2 separate regions of the Homo sapiens genome follow, and region 2 is linked to region 1. Evidence: fine-mapped expression QTL. A gene starts in region 1. The other region holds a variant in brackets. All regions are shown on one strand. Distances are between the middles of the regions. Region 1 holds the start of HSD17B12 (hydroxysteroid 17-beta dehydrogenase 12). Region 2 overlaps HSD17B12 (hydroxysteroid 17-beta dehydrogenase 12).

Region 1 (8,339 bases):
CATTTACATTAGGTTTATCTCCTAATGCTATTCCTCCCCACCCCCCCACCACCCCATGACAGGCCCCAGTGTGTGATGTTCCCTTTCCTGTGTCCAAGTGTTCTCATTGTTCAATTCCCACCTATGAGTGAGAACATGTGGTGTTGGGTTTTTGTCCTTGCGATAGTTTGCTGAGAATGATGGTTTCCAGCTTCATCCATGTCCCTACAAAGGACATGAACTCATCCTTTTATATGGCTGTATAGTATTCCATGGTGTATATGTGCCACTTTTTGTTAATCCAGTCTATCATTGTTGGACATTCGGGTTGGTTCCAAATGTGAATAGTGCTGCAATAAACATACGCGTGCATGTGTCTTTATAGCAGCATGATTTATAATCCTTTGGGTATATACCCAGTAATGGGAAGGTTGGGTCAAATGGTATTTCTGGTTCTAGATCCTTGAGGAATCACCACACTGTCTTTCACAATGGTTGAACTAGTTTACAGTCCCACCAACAGTGTAAAAGTGTTCTTATTTCTCCACATCCTCTCCAGAACCTGTTGTTGCCTGACTTTTTAATGATTGCCATTCTAACTGGTATGAGATGGTATCTCATTGTGGTTTTGATTTGCGTTTCTCTGATGGCCAGTGATGATGAGCATTTTTTCATGTGTCTGTTGCCTGCATAAATGTCTTCTTTTGAGAAGTATCTGTTCATATCTTTTGCCCACTTGTTGATGGGGTTGTTTGTTTTTTTCTTGTAAATTTGTTTGAGTTCTTTGTAGATTCTGGATATTAGCCCTTTGTAAGATGAGTAGATTGCAAAAATTTTCTCCCATTCTGTAGGTTGCCTGTTCACTCTGATGGTAGTTTCTTTTGCTGTGCAGAAGCTCTTTAGTTTAATTAGATCCCATTTGTCAATTTTGGCTTTTGTTGCCATTGCTTTTGGTGCTTTAGACATGAAGTCCTTGCCCATGCCTATGTCCTGAATGGTATTGCCTAGGTTTTCTTCTAGGGTTTTTTATAGTTTTAGGTCTAACATGTAAGTCTTTAATCCATCTTGAATTAATTTTTGTATAAGGTGTAAGGAAGGGATCCAGTTTCAGCTTCCTACATATGGCTAGCCAGTTTTCCCAGCACCATTTATTAAATAGGAAATCCTTTCCCCATTTCTTGTTTTTGCCAGGTTCATCAAAGATCAGATAGTTGTAGATGTGTGGTGTTATTTCTGAGGGCTCTGTTCTGTTCCATTGGTTTATATCTCTGTTTTGGTGCCAGTACCATGCTGTTTTGATTACTGTAGCCTTGTAGTATAGTTTGAAGTCAGGTAGTGTGATGCCTCCAGCTTTGTTCTTTTGGCTTAGGATTGACTTGGCAATGCGGGCTCTTTTTTGGTTCCATATGAACTTTAAAGTAGTTGTTTCCAATTCTGTGAAGAAAGTCATTGGTAGCTTGATGGGGATGGCATTGAATCTATACATTACCTTGGGCAGTATGGCCATTTTCACGATATTGATTCTTCCTATCCATGAGCATGGAACGTTCTTCCATTTGTTTGTGTCCTCTTTTATTTCGTTGAGCAGTGGTTTGTAGTTCTCCTTGAAGAGGTCCTTCACATCCCTTGTAAGTTGGATTCCTAGGTATTTTATTTTCTTTGAAGCAATTGTGAAGGGGAGTTCAGTCATGATTTGGCTCTCTGTTTGTCTGTTATTGGTGTATAAGAATGCCTGTGATTTTTGCACATTGAGTTACAAGACAGGGATGCCCTCTCTCACCACTCCTATTCAACATAGTGTTGGAAGTTCTGGCCAGGGCAATCAGGCAGGAGAAAGAAATAAAGAGTATTCAGTTAGGAAAAGAGGCAGTCAAATTGTCCCTGTTTGCAGATGACATAATTGTATATTTAGAAAACCCCATCGTCTCAGCCCAAAATCTCCTTAAGTTTTACACAATTTTTTAAACTTACCTTGTGATCTTTCTCCTCTGCAACTTTGCTAACGTAGTTCCCATGCCTCTATCTGGACTTCACACTTCTGTGCCCCCTGGAAATACCACTCCCCCACTCCCCAACCAAAAAAGGGAAATTTAAAAAAGAAAGTAAAATTTTCTATCCCCCTTTGAAGACAAATTAAAAGATATAGTCTCCTTCCAAAACTAATTGTTCAGCAAGCTGTGTTCCTATATTTTTCATTCACCATACAGCTCTGATGCCATCGTCTAACAGTTATTAGACTCCATCAGGTTATTTGCCTTGAACCCCAAATCGTTGGGAACTAAGTGATGTTTAGTGCTCAGCTGGGAGGGAGGTCTGGCATTTAAGGGCTCTCTATGAGTGAGTGTAACCCGGGCGAATGCCTGCAGCGAGGAAGGCACAGACACAGAAGACTGCAAGCCTTTATCTGGAAAAGTTTATGGCAACAATGACAGCACGCTTAACAATGATATATTTATTATATAATTATATCATATATGTAAAATATATATTTATTTAATAAAGAGTTGAAAATAAAACTGTGGCTCCACACCTATTTCTTTTCTTTTTTTTTTTGTTTTTGTTTTGGGATGGAGTCTCACTCCGTCGCTCAGGCTGGAATGCAGTGGCGCGATCTCGGCTCACTGCAACCTCTGCCTCCCGGGTTCGTGATTCTCCTGCCTCAGCCTCCCGAGTAGCTGAGATTACAGGCGCACGCCACCACGCCCGGCTAATTTTTGTATTTTTAGTAGAGACGGGGTTCGGATGTTGGCCAGGCTGGTCTCGGACTCCTAAGCTCAAGCGATTCGCCCGCCTCGGCCTCCCAAAGTGCTGGGATTACAGGTGTTAGCCACCGCGCCCTGCCTACGCCCACTTCTTACTATAATCTTTCCATTCACTAGCGGCTTCTCTGATCCCATTTCCTCTTCGAACCTGAGCTCAAACCAGCCTGGGTCTGACCGGCCAATCCGAGCGCAGTCTTCCGCAGTCGCGAGTACGGCTGCAGCCAATGAGAGACCGGGGCGCCTCGGTGGGGTGAGACAGGGCGCTCACTGGCGGAACCCCGGGGGACGCGGTGATGGGAGGAGTGTGGGAGGGGCAGTGGAACTGGAGTCAGCTAATGGCTGACGCACTACGCGCAGAGGGAAAGACGGGTCACCAATAGCGACACGGATATGGCCCCGCGGGCGGGGTTTAGGCCCAAAGTGGTGTCGGAGCAGCGCCTATTAGTGTCATCCTCACCGTCACGGCCGGCGCCTCCTCCTGGATTCATTCACTCGCTCTTTTCATTCACGAAGGTAGTGAGGCCTAGTGGAAAGCCATGGAGAGCGCTCTCCCCGCCGCCGGCTTCCTGTACTGGGTCGGCGCGGGCACCGTGGCCTACCTAGCCCTGCGTATTTCGTACTCGCTCTTCACGGCCCTCCGGGTCTGGGGAGTGGGGAATGAGGCGGGGGTCGGCCCGGGGCTCGGAGAATGGGCAGGTGAGTCGGATGCAGCGCCGCGTCCTCGCTCCCGCGGCGGCCCGGACCAGGCCTGGGCCGTGATGACTAGTTCTGGGGTCTGCTCCTGGCCTTCCCCTCCCCAGCTCTCCTCTTTCTCAGGCTCCTGTGCCCCGCGGGCCCCTCCTGGCTCCCTTGGCTGTCTTCTGCTTGCTTAGACTACTTGCAGAGTTTTAAGGTACGAAATACACTGCTCGCTCAATCCTGGGAATCTAAGCTCAGCTTAGGGTGTAGGAGAAAACTGCCTTAAGTCTCTGGGGCTTGTGCCCTTTAAGCCATTCCGTGTTCATGGAGCCAGTCAGTCGCCCTGCTGCCTCCTCAGTCACACGCTGTCCTCCTTGGTTCGCCCCTTGTAAGTGTTTTTAAAATAAAGTTTTTCGCTCGGTTTGAATATTGGCCCTGTGCTAAGGATGCAGAGCATTCTGTTAACATGTTTGGGCAGAGGATGGAAAGGGGTGTAGGGACACAATTTCAGAAGGCTTTTTGCACTGCGGAATCGTACCTCCCCAGTTACGATTAAGATAGTAATCGTATCTGGATTTGGCCTATTTCATACAATTACAAAGCCCCTTTAAAAGGAATTCTCGCTAAACTGTTCTGGAGTCCTAACGAGTAGCAAGAACTATTGCTTCTGTAAAATGATAACTCATCATGTTAAAATCAGATTTTTTTTTTTTTTTCACAAGGACGTTTGTAGGAAAAAGTATACCCGTAAAGAGTGAACCAAACACATGGAACTTGTAGTCGGAGGATTTTTAAAATGGAGGACGAAGGTCAGGTTGAGGAAATAGGGAAAATTATCTGCAGGGAAGTTTTGCTCCCCCCCCCCTTTTTTTTTTCTTTTTCAACCTATTTTGTTTCCTTCTTTGCTTTATTTTTCGTCTCTTGGCCTTTTTTCCCTTTAAACCGAGTGATTACTTATGATATGCTTGTGGTCCTACCCTGAGATGATTATTTATTTTGATGTTTTATAATCGAATGTGCACTTCCTAAGCATTTTATTGAATTTTGGGGTGGTTAGGCATTGCCTGCAGACTGGGCTCAGGTAAGATACACTAATAATGTTACTCCATGTTCTTTGTTTATTTAGAAACATTTAAACAACCTAGTAGGAAAGACATATGTTAACCTTTTGGGTTTATGTTAACATTAAGAGAAAACATCTTAGCAGTGGATATGTATGTGAAATCTTTGGACGATGTGGAGCAACATTATAATTCTGTTTCACAGTCACCTGTTTCTCTGAAAAAGGAAGTGAAATGTTCAGCTGGGTGTGATGGCTCACGCCTGTAATCCCAGCATTTTGGGAGGCCGAGGCGAGTGGATCACAAGGTCAGGAGTTTGAGACCAGCCTGACCAACACGGTGAAACCCCGTCTGTACTAAAAATACAAAAATTAGCTGGGCGTGGTGGCGCGCCCCTGTAGTCCCAGAGGCTGAGGCAAGAGAATCGCTTGAACCCAGGAGGCGGAGTTTGCAGTGAGCCGAGATCATGCCACTGCACTCCATCCAGCCTGGGTGACAGAGCGAGACTCATCTCAAAAAAAAAAAAAAAAAAAAAACAGAAAGTGAAGTATTCAACTTGGTTATAATTAAGATTATGATTTCCCAATTGACTTGCCCACATTCTTCATTGTTAGTTTTGGAAAACCTGTTTGAAGACTTTTGACTACAAAAGACTACAAGATTTTTATACAAGATAAAAATTAGGGAATTGTATCAAGATAAAATTTGTAATTGGTAAGCAAAGACTAATGTTAATAACTTGTTGTTTTCTTTTCTTTTCTTTTTTTTTTTGAGACAGGGTCTCACTTTGTCACCCAGGCTGGAGGGCAGTGGTGTGGTGGTGTGATCATAGCCAACTGCAGCCTCGAACTCTTGGGTTCAAGTGATCCTCCCATGTGAGCCTCCTGAGTAGCTGGGACTACAGGTGTGCATCACCACACCAGCTCATTTTTTTTGTTTTTTGTAGAGACAAGGCCTCACTCTGTTTCAGAGGCTGGTCTGGAAGACCTGAGATCAAGCAATCCTCCTGCTTCAGCCTCCCAAAGTGCTGGGATTACATGTGTGAGCCACCATGCCTGGATGTGTTTTTTTTTGTTTTTTTTTTTTTTTCTCTTTAAAATTGACCATATTGGTTGATTATTCAAATGATAAGTCCAAGTCATCTACATATGAGTGTACAGTAAAAGGCAAGTGATGTAACACCATAAGTAACATTTGTGTTGAAAAGATTTGGCCCCAGAGGAAGGATAATTGATAAATTAAGGGAAGTATTTGTGTAAGATTTAGATATGAAATTTGAACTGGAACACTGGAACAGCAGAGGATCATAGTATCATAATTGAAGTGAAATGCTGACAGGTTCAATTTACCCTGGGTTTTGGATTTTTTTTTTTTAAATGCTTAAGCAGAAGAAGTGATCTTAAAAGAAAATACTCCCTTTATCTTCAAATTCTGGGACTCTTCAAAAACAAAATTAAGAGCAGCTCATCTTAAACAGGTTCTTCACATGAGTTGGAGGGGTGAACTGAAATAATTTGAAAAACAAACTAGCAGAGATGACACTTGAATAATTAGAGTTGTGATTAAAAATATTGTTCCACCAAAGTTATGATTTTAGAATTGTTGTATGTAAATAGTACTAGTAAGTTTTTTCCCTACGAAATTACTATCTTAATCTCAAGAGTCTCTGTTCTTATGCAGCCTTTGAATCTACTTTCTAGTACTAATATTTAATATTTTCCTCTTTAAAACCAATTATATATTTTAAGTATTTTATTAGTATATGTTGAATTGATACTATATTTTTATTCTTGTTATTCTTAGTCTCTTCATGTGAGTATCTTCATGTGAGTATGTTTAATCTGTCTGCCTCAGATTTTAGGATCTGAGGGGCAGAAAGCGTGGATTCTCACTTTTTGTCTTTTCTCACAAATTGGCTCTTCTAAATTTAAGAACAAAAACTTTGAAAAACTTGAAATACAGGTATGCTTCACAATCAGTAAAATATTCTAGATAACAGTTTCCTTAGTGTTGTTAGGCTTTCAAGACTGTCCATTACTTGGCTGGCCCACACTCTAATTTATCTCCATCTCCTGGTCAAGAGCTGGGCCATCTCTTTCTCCTAGTTCTCACCAGTAACATTCCCACTCAGGTGAATCCCCTGTGTTCCCTATACCCCTAGAAGGTGGGTTTAGCCAATTTAGTAAGTAAGACTTCTTTGTCATTGTTACCCGAATACTTCCTGTATTTCTTAGGAGAACAAAAGGAGATCCTGTGAATGTGGAGTTTCAGGTGTTTGAAGGTCAGTGTAGCAAGTAATCAAAAAAAGATTGATAACAAAGGTGGTCAGTTTGTATTAAATAAAGGAAAGAACAGTCACTGCTATAGAGCAATAAAAAATGTGATCTGTAGAATGTGGTTTGACCATAAATACATTTTGCAAGTATTTGAGTAGTTTCCATTGCTGGAGTTCATCTAAAATGATTGCTATTGAAATAAAGTGGAGATGATAGATGCAAAGGCAAGGTAAGTAGACTTCCAATGTCAAGATATTTTATAACTTTAAACATAAGACAGCACTCTGAGCACTTATTTTTAGTTTTTAATGAAGAGGATATTGTTACACGCAGTGAAGAATAAATGATCCACTAATCAGTTAGTGAGTTAGATTTTTTAAAACAACTTTAGTGGGATATAATTAATATACCATACAATTTGCCCATTTAAAGTGTACAATTCAAGGTTTTTACTTATGTTCACAGGGTTGTGCAACCATCATCAAATCTAATTTCAGAACATTTTCATCTTCCTTAAAAGAAATGCTGTACCCATTAGGCCCTTCACTCCCTGACCCCCACCCGCTCCAGCCCTAGTCAACTACCAATCTACTTTCTGTCTACGTAGGTTTGCCTGTTCTGGATATTTCATATAAATGGAATCATACAATAGGTGTTCTTTTTTGTTAGTGGCTCTTTGATTTTTGCATAATGTTTTCAAGTTTCATCTATGAAATCTGTACTTCATTTTGTTTGTATTGCTGAATAATATTCTGTTTTGTGGAGTGAGGTCAGATTTCACAAAAAAAGTCTTCAACCCTTTGTTCTACCCTCTGGATGTTTACATTAGCAAATCTCTAAGATGTAGCTTCTGGTTGCTGATGGAACTCGTTTGGCTTTGCAGTATTCCAAGGTTCTCCTAATTCAGTAGATAGTGAGGACTTAAAAATGGCATGGAATGGTGTGGTTCTCCTCTGGAAAAACCATTCATGAAAACATGCATCAAAGGATTCTCAAAATCACAGGTATAATCACAATTTCTGTTTTCACATTGGTTAACTGCACAGGGTTAACCTCAAATGACTGAAGAATACTTGTGTAACTAGAGCTTATTAATAGTAGGTGTCTTTCTTTAACAAGAGTTTGTGATATCACATGATTTGAAGAATTATATATGAAATGTTAGTTATTTAAATTGACAACCCAGAAGAAATATTAATAACTATCATTTATTGAATGGGTGCTTGAAATGTGCCAGGAACTTGAGATTATTTTTAACCTCTTTGAGCTGTGCTCCGTTGTCCCCAGTGGACAGAGGAAGAATCAGAGGGTTTAGTAAATTGCTTTCATTATCTATGGTTTCATAGCTATTAAATTGCAGAGTCAGGATTTGAAACCAAGTCATCCGTTCTGCAACATTCGTACACTGTATGTTGGTGATGGGCCTACAGACTGGATGAGTACTCGGGAGTAGATTTCTTTATACCTACAAACTTTATTAAAAGCTTTTTGATTGAAGACACACTTTCACTTTTTAAAATTTAAATTTTTGTTTTATTTTTAAGAACAATCTCAGACCAAAAAAAGGCACAGTTTCAAATTTG
Region 2 (8,339 bases), 43 kb after region 1:
CTAAATTCTGCTTAAAAATTAAACAGGTCCTTCTTTAGTTTATTTCTCTCTTCTCCATACTTTATCATATGCAGCTGAAAGAAGCCAGTTGGTACTACTTTCAGTGTTCTACCTGGAAATATCTTTAGCCAGTCAATAAGTTAATTAGGTAAATATTCTATCTTATGTAATTGTTAAATTAGGTAAATATTATTGCAGACAACAGTCTTGCCAAACATTCCACCACTGTGTAACATGAGGCACTCTCTCTCCTGCATCTAATAGCAATTTTCTCATGGTTCTTCTGGCCTTTGCTAACAACTGACTTTCCACTTTTTCAGCCTCTGCCTGCCATCAGGTCCCAAAACCAATGCTGCATATTTTAGGCTGTTTGGCACTTCCCTTAAGCAAGTCAATCAAAGCAAGTCGCATATCCAAGGAAGGGAAAATAGATTCCATCTCTTGATGGGAGGAATGGCAAATTCACATTGCAAAAGAGCATGTGGAATGGGATGACTTATAGTCATCTATAGAATAATCTATTGCACCTAGTAAGTTTAAACTTGGAAGATTTACTATAGGTGAGAAGTTAACAAGTGGTAGCCTGTGTATGTATCTGGCTCACAGATATGGTATATTTGGCTTGGATAGAGTTTTAATGAAAAAAAACCAACATAATTTATCATCAAACAATTGGGAGATTTTATCTAGAAGGTTATATATCAGGTCTCTCTTGAAAAATAGTAAGCTGTTTTTGTGTTGGGCCTTCATTTCCATATTAGCTGGAAATTGCCTGATTTACTCCCTTTCATGACCTCTTGGCTCCTATAGGTATTTGATTTTGCAGTTTTTGCTGCTGCAGATTACTAATTTATATGTTAGTTTTTTTTAAGGGAATATGGTGATGAGCAAGACAGTCATAGAGCTTACATTCAAGTATGGGAAGATGGACAATAATACTAGATAAATAATGTAATTGCACATGGAAGTGGAATAAAGCAAGAATCTGGGATAGAAAGTAACTAGTAAATAGGTAGTTGGGGTGGGGATATTTTAGATAGGGTGGTCAGGAAGCCCTCTCTGAAGACATGACGTTGAGTGGCCTTAGTGTGAGAAGGAGCCAAACATGGGGTAAGAGTGTTCCAGGCAGGCTGAGCCTCGTGGCTGATGCCTGTAATCTCAGCACGTTTGGAGGCTGAGGTGGGCAGATCACCAGGTCAGGAGATCGAGACCATCCTGGCTAACATGGTGAAACCCCATCTCTACTAAAAATACAAAAACATTGGCTGGGCATGGTGGCACGTGCCTGTAGTCCCAGCTACTCGGGAGGCTAAGCCAGGAGAATCGCTTGAACCTGGGAGGCAGAGGTTGCAGTGAGCTAAGATCGCACCACTGCACTCCAGCCTGGGTGACAGAGCGAGACTCCATCTCAAAAAAGAAAAAGAATGTTCCAGGCAGAGGAAAAAGCAAGTGAAATGACCCATGGGTGGGCCTGGGCTTGGGGTGTTTGAGGAAAGGCAAAGCCGAGAGTATAAGAGGAGAAAATGGTAGTAGAAGAGGGGCATGAACGAGGTCATGAAATATCCTGTAGGACATAAAAAAACTTGAGCTCTTATTCTGAGTAATGGGAAGTCATTGAAGGAATTGAACAGGGCTAAGGTTGTGATGTCATTTACTTTTTGCAAAGATGTCTGTAGCTGCTGTGTGGTAAATAGACTAGTGGCAAAGGGTGGAAGTAGGATGTTGTAAAGGAGGCTTGCAGTCATCTAGGGGAGGTATAAATGATGGGGCCTTGAACCAGGGCATGGTACTTTTAGGAGTGAGAAGTGGTCATACGTGGTATGTATTAGACAGGTCTTATGGATTATTGAATATGGGATATGGGAATGGGAGGAATTAAAGCCAACTTTGAGGCTTTTGGCTTGAGCAACTGAATAAATGGGTGGTCCCATGGGGAGTTCTGACAGAGGAGCAAGCTCGAAGTGGGAATTGAGAGTTTTCTCTTGACTATTATTAACTTTGTGACCCTACTGCAAAAATAAGTTTGAAAATGAAAACTCCTAAAGTGAAATTGTTTTTATCTTACAGCTCTTTATATGTGTTTTTTTCTTCTTTTCCTCTTCATTAGAAGACTTTGCCATTACTTGGATGGCATACCAGCTGCAATGGAGGAAGTATACAGATGTATATTGGAGGATGTATTTATATTTTAATGTGTAGCTATCTGCTGTCAAGAATTAGGCAAGGAGACTAGTCACTCACACCTGTAATCCCAGCACATTGGGAGGCTGAAGCGGAAGGATTGCTTTAGGCCAGGGATTCGAGACCAGCCTGGCCAACATAGTGAGCTCTTGTCTCTACAAAAAATTTAAGAATTGGCCAGGTGTGGTGGCTCACACCTGTAATCCCAGCACTTTGGGAGGCCGAGATGGGTGGATCACTTGAGGCCAGGAGTTAGAGACCAGCCTGGCCAACATGGTGAAACCCCATCTCTACTAAAAATACAAAAGTACTAGCTGGGAATGGTGTCAGGTGCCTGTAATCCCAGCTACTTGGGAGGCTGAGGCAGGAGAATTGCTTGAACCCGGGAGGCAGAGGTTGCAGTGAGCCGAGACCACACCATTGCACTCCAGCCTGGGCAACAAGAAAAAAAAAATTAAGAATTCGCCTGCCATGGTGGTGTGCTATTTTGAGTAATGGGAAGTCACTGAAGGAATTGAACAGGGGTAGTGATGTGATGTCATTTACTTTTTGCAAAGATGCCCCTGGTTGCTGTGCCGTGAATAGACTAGTGGCCACAGGTGGAAGCAGAATGGTCATTTAAAATTTTCTATTTATTCCAATTCAGTGTGGTCATAAAGGATCAAGTGTAATTTATTATTCACATTTTATTGGTATGGAGAATTAATTCATTTTTACTATTAAAAAAAGGTGGCATGTTAGTAATCAGAATGTTCTAGGAGAACCTTCCAGAGGTTTGCAACTCTTAGAATTGAAATCACTATTTAGCTAAGACCAGAATCGTAACATAAGGCAAGATTGAATAAGGTGAATGGATTTGATGAATTAAAGTGCTACTTGTAAAGGATAGTAAATTCACTTTTGCATTTTAGATAGTAGCTTTTATTGTAAATTTGGATGCAAAATGAGATAATAGCGTTTTCACCCCTTTTCAAGAGCCATTTGGAGATAGCATTTTGACTAGATCTGTCATTCAATTCAGCTTAGAAATAATTTATAATTTTATTTTTAAATTCCTATTTTAGGATATTATCATATTATCATGAGATAATGATAATACCACTCTAATTTTATTATAATTGGGTTGGGAGGAAATAGTCTTTTGTAAAAGGTTAGTTAGTGGCATATTGCCATTAGCATTTATTTTACCTTTTTTAGAAAATGAAAATCATTACACTTAAATTCAATGTATATTATATAGAGAACATAACTGATTTATAACCATGTAAAATATCTTGTCTTACTAACAAAACGTTCAGTTTTTCCTTCTTTGTGAAACCTTGAGTCAAAATGTACTAGTGAGGATGTTTATATTCCAGTGGTGTAGCTGAACCAGACAGGTCTGCAGCGCAGTGGTTTATTTTTAGACCTGCGTTGCCATTTTTATCCTGCAAAAATATTCATCAGTGTCTTGCTGACAGGCCATCAGTTTCATAAATGTGTCACATAGACCAGATTTTGTTCTTTGTCTCATTTTCCCTCCAACTCTTCTTTTCCTTTTGATTTGTTCATACAACTGTTTGGAGGAGGAGAATTTTTTTTTTTAATTTCAATTCATGTATTAGATGCTTCAATTCTAAGATCTAACAGATTTTCAGATCACCCAGTTCATTCATCTATCTGCATCTGCTTACACATCTCTACTTATTGTCTGATATGAGAAGCTGTTATAGATCACTAAGCTGAAGGCAAGGAAAAGAGAATTGCATGCATTGGGGATTCTCTTCATGGGTCCAGTCAGTTTTTGACTGCCTTCTCCATATATGTTTTTATATATTTATGTGTATGCTCTGTGTGTGTGTGTGTGTGTGTGTGTGTGTGTGTGTGTGTGTTTTCGTTTATTTACTTGTCTTACCCAACAAGGGACTGGCATAAAATATTTTGCATAAAAAAAATAGCTGCCTAAGGGCCTAGGGGTTACCATATGTGGCAGAAAGCCATGTATTGAAAATAAATCCATCATTATCTTTAAATACATAGAGCACCAATTATTTAATTTGTTAGGAGACTGTTTTAACCTGTTTGGGCTGCTAAAACAAAATACCATAAACCAAGTGGCTTACGAACAACAGAAATTTATTTCTCACAGTTTTGAAGACTGTGAAGTCCAAGATCAAGGTCCTGGAAGATTTGGTATATGGTGAGGGACTGTTTCCTGGTTCACAGATGGTACTTTCTCACTGTGTCCTCTCATGGCAGAGGGGGCAAATGAGCTCTCTCAGACCTCCAAAAGAGGACTGATCCCATTCATGAGGGCTCTGTCCTCGTGATCCAACCATCCACAAATGCCCCCTGCTAGTACCATCACCTTGTGGGTTAGGGTTTCGACT[A/G]TGAATTTTGGGGGAACACAAACATTCAGACCGTAACAGAGATGATGTTTTGATTCCAGATGCCTGAGTGACAAATATCACCAAAACAGAAGGAAAAATTCCTGCAATCAAGAGAAACTAGGGGCACATACTTGAGAATATAGTAATTTTTTAACAGTGTATATTCATGTCTCATTTTTATAAAAACTCAGATTCCCAGAGCAGGATTGGTATTCACTTATCTCTGTAACAAATATTTACTGAGTAGCTACTTGAGGGCCCAATATATTAATTGCTTTAGTGGCTACCATGGCTTGGAGAACAGGATTTCTGACTTGTGGAGCTTATAGTTATTTTAAGAGGAAAATACTTCTATGTATATTTCACAGACATGGCAGTACAGCATACTAGGTAAGAGTATAGGCACTGGAGCCAGAAATTTGCATTTATAGTTTGTGCCAGTCATTTCCTAGTTTTGTTACCTTGAGCAAACTGTTCAGCTTTTCTGAGCCTCAGTTTCTTCATCTCTAAAATTGGTATGTACTTCAGAAATTATTGCAAAGGTTAAAAAAGATGATGCTTGTTTAGCAATGTGCTAAAAATACTGAACATCATGCCTAGCACATAGTAAGCACATAATAAATGCTGGTTAATTCATAATAACAGTAATAACAATGATGGGGATAACAACAAATATTCTATGCATATTCTGTAATGCTTTAACATCAGGAATGTCTTCAGCTGTAAGTAACAGAATACACAACTATGGTGGCTTAAACAGATAAGGATTTATTAATCTAACAAGTCTGACATAGGCCAGATTGAATATTAATTATTCAACAATTTTTATCAATAATCTATATGCCAGCTACTATTCTAGGCACAAGGATTCATCCATTAACAAAATGCAGTTATTCCTGTCCTCATGAAGCTTACATTCTAATTGGGGAGAGAGACAAAAATAAACAAAACAATGTAATATAAAAATGGTAAGTTATTACTATGTTAGAAGGTGGGCTTCATAGAAAGCTTTGTGAAGGAGGGCCCATTTATGTTAGGCCATAAGGGAACAACAGAGTTTGAATAAATGAGGCTAGGTGAGAGAAAGACACAACAGAGGAACAGATATGAGAAAAATGGAGGAGCCATTTTGAGCCATCTCAAAATGGAAGTTTTGGCAACAGTGCTTTGTTAATCATCAAGTAATCAGGAGCCATGAACGCAAGATTTTTCTCAGATTTCTAAAGTAAAAGATTTCATGTTGTTATTTTCACTTTATGTAACAGTTAACAATCAAATAATAATAGTGATAGTAATATGTAGTGCTTACAAATCAAACGTTCTACTTAATACTAATGATAATAAAAGCATATGGCTGACACTTACGTAATGCTAATTAGGTATCACACTAGTCTAAGGATTTGGTATTCATATCCTAATCTCTGTGTTAAGTACTAATAGTATTCCCATTTTACAGATAAGTAAAGTTAGGTAGTTTGGTAACTTGGCCCAGGTTTATTTGCCCTTAGTGTCTCTAAGGGCGATAAGAAAAGAGATAACTGGAGAGATAGCCTCTCATTCCATAATCCAGGGGATAGAGTGGGTGAGGAAATGTTCAGGGAATATAAGTAGGTTTAACCCCTAAAGCCCGAGCAAAGGAAGAAAGGAGAAATTGAGGGCGTTAGTAGGGCTTGAGATGGCTCATCTAAACAGTTACCCACAATTTCCACAACTCTGGCAGAAATTTACCATTAGATGAGATTAGGTCCAGAGCTTTATCATATTTCAGAGACAGGCTTTCCAATGCTAAGCATCACACATATACCTTACCCAGCAGGGACCATTAGAATCCTTTTCTCATAGGGAGAGTGTCTTTTGTTGTTTGTTTCTTCACTTGGTTATCTCTTAAATGAAAGAAGAATTTTCCAATTTCAACATGAGCTTTCAAATGGACCAAATTCTCAAGCATATTTAGGTTGTGTCTAAATAGTTCTTATAGAACAAATATTATGATATGTGCTGCCTGTTAAAATTTCTGTCTGTATTCATGTACACATTCTATGTCTAATTAGAAGCTGCCAGCCTTGTCAAAATACAAGTATGGTCCACTGTTAAAACCTGATGTAAGAAAATATAAATGTATAAAAATAGTTAAAGTTGGGAGGTGGGGGGCCATGGAGAGTACTTGCATTCTAAAAAAATTTTTAAGGCTTCCATTAATTGGGAAAGTTTGCTTTACATAATAATTCAAAGAATAGATTTTATTTATGTAGTATAAATGTGAGACCACAGTTATTACATAAAGGGTGAACTTACTTAAATATACTTTATATTAAGGATTCAGTCATGGTACAATGCCATGCTCATTTTCAGTGAACAAGACAACTGTATACTCAGATAGCATATGGTAGAAAGAACTGAGGCATCACAGGCCAAGAGGCCCCCTGAAGCTGAATGTGGTCTTGCTGGTGCTGTTAGACTGAGTAGCCCTTGTCGGAAGAAATGGTAGATTCCATCAGAAAATGTTCAATGTAAAATATTACAGCAGTCCTTGTGATTTTCAGTAGGTGTTTCCCAAGCTACTCTTACGTTATTGGGATCAGCTAACTAACCGAAGGTGGCTGTGTTCTATTTAAATAAAATCTTGAGTTTAGAAGGTTTCAGGGGAGTCCCAGTTTAGAGGGAACTTTGTGTGAACTTTGATTCTGTTTGAATCTTGATCATGCTAGAGAAATAACTCATGAATATAAGGCTTTTTTTTTTTTCGATAGGGAGTCTTGCTATATTGCCCAGGCTGGTCTTGAATTCCTGGTCTCAACTGATTTTCCTGCCTCAGCCTCCTGAGTAGCTGGGATTACAGGCACACACCACCCTACCTGGCTTATAAGGCATTTTGTTGATATAAATTCCCATCATAGTACAAACCACCATCTCTTAATGCTGAGTTTTACAACTCCTTCTCCAAGTATTTGGTGTTATGGTAAAACAGTAGGAAAAAAACACAACAATTCACCCTCTTTCTACCCTTTAATCCATTTTTGTTTTTAATCACACCTTTTTTCCTCCACTTTGCCAGTGTGCTTCTTGATCTCAGGTTGGGAGAGATGAACTATGGCAGTAATGTATAGTGGGCAGTGGACTCCCCTTTCTCCAGAGATGGTAGAGTAGGTTTGGTGCTTTTTTGTTTGTTTCATTTCTGGAAAACTTGAGTTTATGTGTTTTTCTGTCTGAGGCTTTAAATACAAACTGAATTAAGCAGACATCTCAATTGTGGCAGTAACCACATGGGGGCTTGCATAGTGTGATTCTGTTTTTTTTTTGTTTGTTTTTTGTTTTTTTGTTTTTTGAGACCGAATCTTGCTCTGTCACTCAGGCTGGAGTGCAGTGGCACAATCTCCACTCACTGCAACCTCCGCTTCCTGGGTTCAAGTGATTCTCCTGCCTCACCCTCCCAAGTAGCTGGGATTACAGGTGCCTGCAACCACGCCCAGCTAATTTTTGTATTTTTAGTAGAGATGGGGTTTCACCATGTTGGCCGGGCTGGTCATGAACTCCTGACCTCAGGTGATCTGCCCACCTTGGCCTCCCAAAGTGCTGGGATTATAGGCATAAGCCATTGCACCTGGCCCAATTCTGTTTAACTAATATACAGAATATAATTTTATTTGAATTTTAAACTATAAAAACATTACACAAGAAATATATTTACTTATAGAAAAATTAGAAAATCCAGCTAAGTAAAAAAAAAAGAAAAGAAAAATTATTTATATTCCTCTACCTAGAGGTAACTACCATCAACTTTTTGGTCTG

What was found. PIP is the estimated chance that this variant, and not a neighbour inherited with it, causes the effect.
Region 2: its variant is fine-mapped to the expression of HSD17B12 in prefrontal cortex (BrainSeq, PIP 0.95).

What each region holds. Positions count from the first base shown.
Region 1 is chr11:43,677,551-43,685,889 of GRCh38, forward strand. HSD17B12 (hydroxysteroid 17-beta dehydrogenase 12) reads left to right here and starts at 3,188. Exons shown (of 11, transcript NM_016142.3): 1 at 3,188-3,437. The coding sequence starts at 3,278. RefSeq lists enhancers at 2,783-2,832, 3,043-3,608, 3,683-3,732, 3,883-3,942.
Region 2 is chr11:43,720,209-43,728,547 of GRCh38, forward strand. The region is part of intron 1 of HSD17B12 (hydroxysteroid 17-beta dehydrogenase 12); the gene reads left to right. Among named protein-coding and RNA genes, the nearest start is that of HSD17B12, 44 kb to the left of the region's middle. The variant A/G (reference allele first, on the strand shown) is at 4,551.